Regions from separate parts of the Homo sapiens genome. Here region 1 is linked to region 2. A link means that fine-mapping ties the variant in region 2 to the plasma level of a protein whose gene starts in the linked region. Region 2 holds a variant in brackets. A gene starts in the other region. All regions are shown on their forward strands. Region 1 holds the start of CKB (creatine kinase B). Region 2 has its middle 8.5 kb from the start of LINC01280.

What was found. PIP is the posterior inclusion probability: the model's chance that the variant is causal. The UK Biobank Pharma Proteomics Project read protein levels with antibody pairs (Olink). The fine-mapping took linkage between variants from a reference panel, not from the people measured, so its PIPs are less certain.
Region 1: CKB starts here. The variant in region 2 is fine-mapped to the plasma level of the CKB protein (UK Biobank, PIP above 0.99).

The regions. Positions count from the first base shown.
Region 1 is chr14:103,521,493-103,524,394 of GRCh38, forward strand. CKB (creatine kinase B) reads right to left here and starts at 1,338. Exons shown (of 8, transcript NM_001823.5): 1 at 1,274-1,338; 2 at 809-1,013; 3 at 531-685; 4 at 326-458. The coding sequence starts at 1,001. RefSeq lists silencers at 1-26, 167-216 and an enhancer at 1,580-2,465.
Region 2 is chr2:216,613,961-216,616,862 of GRCh38, forward strand. No RefSeq gene overlaps it. Among named protein-coding and RNA genes, the nearest start is that of LINC01280, 8.5 kb to the left of the region's middle. RefSeq lists a silencer at 1,246-1,540. The variant G/A (reference allele first, on the strand shown) is at 1,741.

The DNA.
Region 1 (2,902 bases), not on the chromosome of region 2:
CGGACCCGCCCGCCCCCGTGCCCCACCTCGGGGGACGTCAGAGGGCCCCACCCGCCCGGATCTGCGGGCGTCCAGTCCTCACGGCCCGGGCGACGGTCCCAGGCGGTGACCCCGCGCCAGGACCCGCCCTCCCTGGGCCCCAGGCCGCTGTGGGCGCGGGGCTGGGCCTCCGTCCCTCGGTCCCTCCGGGAAACTGAACCCGGGCGCGCGCAGATAAGAGCGCGACGGCGGCTGCCGCTCCCGGGCGACGTAAACAAAAGCGGGCGGGGACCGCGCCGGGAGGGGGACGCGGCCGCCGCCGCCCCTCGGCCCGCCCGGCCCCTACCTTCCACCGCGAGCTTCTCGATGGCGCGGCGCTCCCCGCGGCTGCAGTGCGGGGGGAGGCAGAAGCCACGGATGCTGCGGCCCGTGCGCACCCGCGAGCTCAGCACGTAGTTGGGGTCCAGGTCGTCGCCGCCCTGGGAGGCGAGACGGGAGTGAGCGCCCGAAGACCCCGGCCCCGCCCGCCCGGCCCGCCCGCAGCCCCGCACCTGCAGGTTGTCGGGGTTGAGGTCGGTCTTGTGCTCATCGCTGGGCTTGTAGCCGCCGTGCCGGTCCTCGATGATGGGGTCGAAGAGATCCTTGAACACTTCGTAGGACTCCTCGTCGCCCGCCACGCAGCCCACGGTCATGATGTACGGGTGGCCTGGGGGAGGGGGCGCGGGACGGGGACAGTGACGTCACTGCCGGGCCCGAGCGCGCTGCTGAGGACCCTGCGGCTGCGCGGGGGGAGGGGGGGCCGGGACCCCGGCCCCGAGGGGTCGCGTACCCGGGTTGTCCACGCCTGTCTGGATGACGTCGTCCAGCGTGAAGCCGCTCGGCGTGCTCTTGGCGCGCAGCTCCGCGTACAGCTCGGGGGTCAGCACCTTGGCCATGTGGTTGTTGTGGGCGCTCAGGTCGGGGAACTCGTCCTCGGCCGGGAAGCGCAGCTTCAGTGCGTTGTGGCTGTTGGAGAAGGGCATGGCGGCGGCGGGCTGCGGGGAGACGCGGGGTCAGAGGGGACCGGCACGCCGGGGTTCCCGGGCTCCCGCGTACCACTCAGGCCCCCGCCGCCGGGCCCCCCGGCGCCCCCCGGGACGCGGCCAAGGTCAGCGGGGTCCGCAGCGCGCGCGGGGAGCGCCATCATCGCCGGGGACCCCCGGCCGGTCCGGCGCGCGCTCCAGGCGACGCGCCCCCTTTGCACGCAGCGCCCCTAGCCCGGGCGCGGACGCCCCCGGCCCCCGGGCCCACTCACCGGGCGGCCGGGCGGGGGCGGGGGCGCTCCGTCCGTCGGCAGCTCCCGGAGCGACGCAGGCGAACAGCGGCCGCTCCGCGCTCCCGCGGCTCTTAAGGGGCACAACGCGGGCCGCCCATTGGCGGCTATTTATAGCCCATTCATTCCATTGGCCCGCGCCGCGGGGTGGTGCCGCCGCTTTGTCCGCCGCCCGCAGCCCCCAACACCCTGGCCGCCCACCCGAGCTGTCCCCTCGCTGGGACCCCGCGCAGCCTGCCCAGTCCCCCGCCCAAGACCTCGAGGCCGAAACCTCAGGTCCTTGGATATCTGGATCCCCTCGCACGCCCTTGCCTCTGGGCGGGAAACTGAGGCGGAGAGCCTCCGGGCACTCGAGGACGCTTGGGTTCATCCGCATCCTCGAGCCTGCCCGCCTAGTCCAGCCAGCCCCCGCGGCGGCGGCGAGGGGCCGGGCGAAAGCTTTCGGGGCTTCCGCAGCAGGTACGGCCCCCGCCCCACCCCCGGCCAGTGCGAGCTGGCCCGGAGCCGCCGACCTTCCTCAAGGTGCCCGCAGGCGTTTCCTGGGCGATCCTGGTGCAAAGCGAAGGCGCGCGGGAAGCGCAGTCTGGCTGCGGCCCAGCCCGGGGGCACCCGCGGTGCCCTGACCTTGGACAAGTCCTGGGTCTCGGGGGGCTGCGAGCCAGAAACCACGGGGACGCTGTGGCCTTAAGAGGCCGCTGGCAAGTGCAGCCTCGGAGTTTCCAGACCCCAACCCTGGGCCCTCTTCGCAGGGGACAAGTTTACCCGACCCCCAAAGGCAGTCCCCGGAGACTTCAGGCAAAGATGGGAGGAAACGCTAATAAACAATAAGCATAAGTGCGATTAAAAAAAAAAACTGATCTCACGAATAACCAGAATCATGCAAATTAAGCAGTGACTCCACCTGCCCCTACCCCCAACACTCCCAGATCGACCCCAGCCATTGCTGGCTTTGAGCTGGAATGCGGGAAGACAGGCGTCCACACGCTGCCTGCAACTTAAATTGCTGCATGCTTTTTGCAAGATAATTTGGCAGAATCTATTAACGTTAACAATGTTCGAACTCCGTGACCCAGCAATCTCCCCTTCTAGGAATGCAGCCCTTAGAAAGGATGTCTCAGTTCTCTCCACTAATGGACCAAGAGATCTGTGGAGGGAAAAACAAACATAACTGGATACAACCCGATGCCCCATCAGGCGGGAGTGGCCAAGGGTAGGGAGGCATCTGCTTGCTGTGGAATATTATGCAGCTGTTAAGAGGGGGAAGTGGAGGATGTGGGGTTAATATCCATCAGGGACCCTCATCTGTTGCTCTGTGAATAAAGCAAAGAAGGGGGGAACTCTTATCTGTGGGTATATTTGATACAAATCCCTCCAGCAGTGGCACAATGAGCACCTAACAGGTGCCAGCCGCTGGGGATACAGCAGGCAGCGAGGTACACAGCGCCTGCTGCTGGAAGAAGACTGGCCATGAGCCAGCAGCCCAACAAACCAGATGACATCAGATCGGTGCTGCTGGGGCCAGGGGGACACAGAGCAGTGGCGTTCCAGGTATAAGGGACCCCGAATAGGTGCCTCAGAGCAGAAGGCACCAGAGCCAAGGCCCAAAGGCAG
Region 2 (2,902 bases):
GCCACCATGCCTGGCTAATTTTTTGTATTTTTTTTTTTTAAGGAGAGACGGGGTTTCACTGTGTTAGCCAGGATGGTCTTGATCTCCTGACCTTGTGATCCGCCCACCCCAGCCTCCCAAAGTGCTGGGGCAAAAGGTACTTCTAACATGGCGGCAGCAAGAGACAATGAGGAAGACGCAAAAGCGGAAACCCCTGATAAACCCCTCAGATTTCGTGAGACTTATTCACTATCACGAGAATAGCAGGGGAAAGATGAGGCCTATGATTCAATTACCTCCCCCTGAGTTCCTCCCACAACACGTGGGAATTCTGGGAGATACAATTGAAGTTGAGATTTGAATGGGGACACAGCTAAACCGTATCAGTATCTGCTTTTGGTAAGCTGCATGACCTTGGGCAAGTAGCTTTAACTTCTCAGAGCATCACTTTCCTCACCTGAAAAGTGGAGATGATAAGAGCTGATTTGTAGGGGTTTTTTGAAGATTAAATGAGATCACTTTTGGATATCACTTTGCTAAGGGGCTGGCACATAGTGGACTACCCAGCCATGCCACTGTTCCGTTCCTCCTTCTTCTTTCTCCTCCTTCCTATTCCTCCTCCACTTCCTCTCTTGTTGTTGCTATTACTATTATTATTATTATTATTATTACTAGCTAGCCAGGCTGCCTGTATTTCTCCAGAAAACCATTACCCATGGTTTAAAAAATCCACCCTTGGCCAGGTGCGGTGGCTCACGCCTGTAATCCCAGCACTTTGGGAGGTCGAGGTGGGCGGATCAGGAAGTCAGGAGATCAAGACCATCCTGGCTAACACAGTGAAATCCCGTCTCTACTAAAAATACAAAAAAAAATTAGCCGGGCGTGGTGCTGCACGCCTGTAGTCCCAACTACTCGGGAGGCTGAGGCAGGAGAATGGCGTGAACCTGGGAGGCGGAGCTTGCAGTGAGCCGAGATCGCCCCACTGCACTCCAGCCTGGGTGACAGAGTGAGACTCTGTCTCAAAAAAACAAAAAAGAGAGAAAAGAAAAAATATCCATCCTTGCTTCTACTCTCTTAGAGGCATATAGAGTTGCCCATATGAGAAGCAGCTCAATTACGATTGTTGAATGCATGGCCTCATCACTTTTGGTTTGGAGCTCACAGTTGAAACCATGTTTGTCGCCTCTGTCCTCCATGGATTAATATGTGCAGCCTGTCTCTCCTAATCAGATGTCACTGTGGCCTCTCATGGTATCCCGAGTAGTCACACTCTCCAGAGAATGGCCACCCCTCCAGCCCTTGGGGTACTCTCCTATGGGCCACTTCAAAGGGAGTTTTGCCCACTCCTCATAGCCTGTATTTTAAGTCAAATCATTTGAAATAAGCCCTCCAAACTGGGTGGAAAACCTCCCTAGGCATTTTTATGTGAAGTGGAAACAGAAAATCTTATTTTTATAGAAAGACTCCTCTGGGATCTCACTATCTAGTAGAGAAGACTGGGGCAGCCCTGAGGTTTGTGTTACAAGAAAGGCTTAGGAGGGAAAGGCGTCTAGGCCAGCTTCCTGGGAAGGTCACATAAATTCCTGCTTAGCATTCAGCGTAGGCTGAGGGCACACCTTCAGGAGACAGGAGCAAACAGACTCCAGCTCCTCTTCCATATTCTTCCAAAGCAGTTTTGGTGAGTACCAGGACCCACTGCTGTTGAAATGCACACCCACTCACCTCACAGTGTGGCCCAGAAGGAACCAGAACCCAATAGGA[G/A]AGGGGCAGAGTTATAAACAACTCCACTGGCTACATCACACTGTGCTTATCGCTGCAAATATTGACTCTGGAGGATCAAACAAGTGGCCAAAAAAAACAATAATATTTTCCCCAGAGAGAAGGTCTTGTTCCAGACAGCCAGGATCAAGTCGGATGGGCAGGCAGTGACAGATGGCACAATGCAAGGTGAAGGTCTCCATGCAAGGGTGATGCTCTCACGTGGTAGGTCCCCTTGGAACTGCTATGCCCAGGGAAGGAGAGACCAGACTCAGGGTGCCATCAGGTGGTCTTAAAGAACACAGGGCATCCCATATCGTGGATCAGAGTTCTCAAAGTCAAGAGATTGCTCCAAGAGGCAAATGTCCACAGCAAAGATCCGACTCCAGGTTTGGCAAACATTGACCTGAATCCCTTCTTTGGGTCAGACATCCTCCCAGAAACCTCCAAGAACGATTCCACACAATCCTTACAAAAGCCTCATGAACTAGGTGTTCTTACTCCATTTTGCAGATGCAAAAACTGAGGCTCCTAACAGTTTGATGACTTGCAAAACAGGTCACATTGTAGGTTATCTGGCAGAGCTGGGATAAGGACTCCCCAGTAAGTGCCTCTAAAGTGTGCTGTGCTTGTTCTGGTTGTTTCGAGCTCTGAGTTCTTCTGGGTTACAACTCAAATGCCCCTTACACAGTGAAAGTCCAGAGAGCAGGATTCTGGACAAAGAGCAGGAACTGAGGTCATTGATTGGCTAAGCCTCAGGGTTGTTTACTATTTTGTAAAGATGTGGATAGAAATAATTATTGATTCTGCATTCTGGCTCTTGGGCAGAAGGCACAGTTTTGAAAGTATCGGCAAGATGCCCAATGCTGCACCCTAGCCATGCAGTGTGTGTTCCTGTGTGTGTGGGTGGGTGTGTAGGTGTGTGTGTGTGTGTCTAGTGCAATTGTGGTAGAGGTTTCATTGTGACCCTCTAAAACCTCCCTTCTGCCCAACCCCCAGACAATGATACCTTACAGCAAGAGCAAGCTTGTCCAACCTGCGGCCCAGGATGACTTTGAATGCAGTCCAACATAAATTCGTAAATTTTCTTAAAACGTTATGATATTTGTTTGCAATTTTTTTTTTTTTAGTTCACCAGCTATCATTAGTGTTAGTGTATTTTATG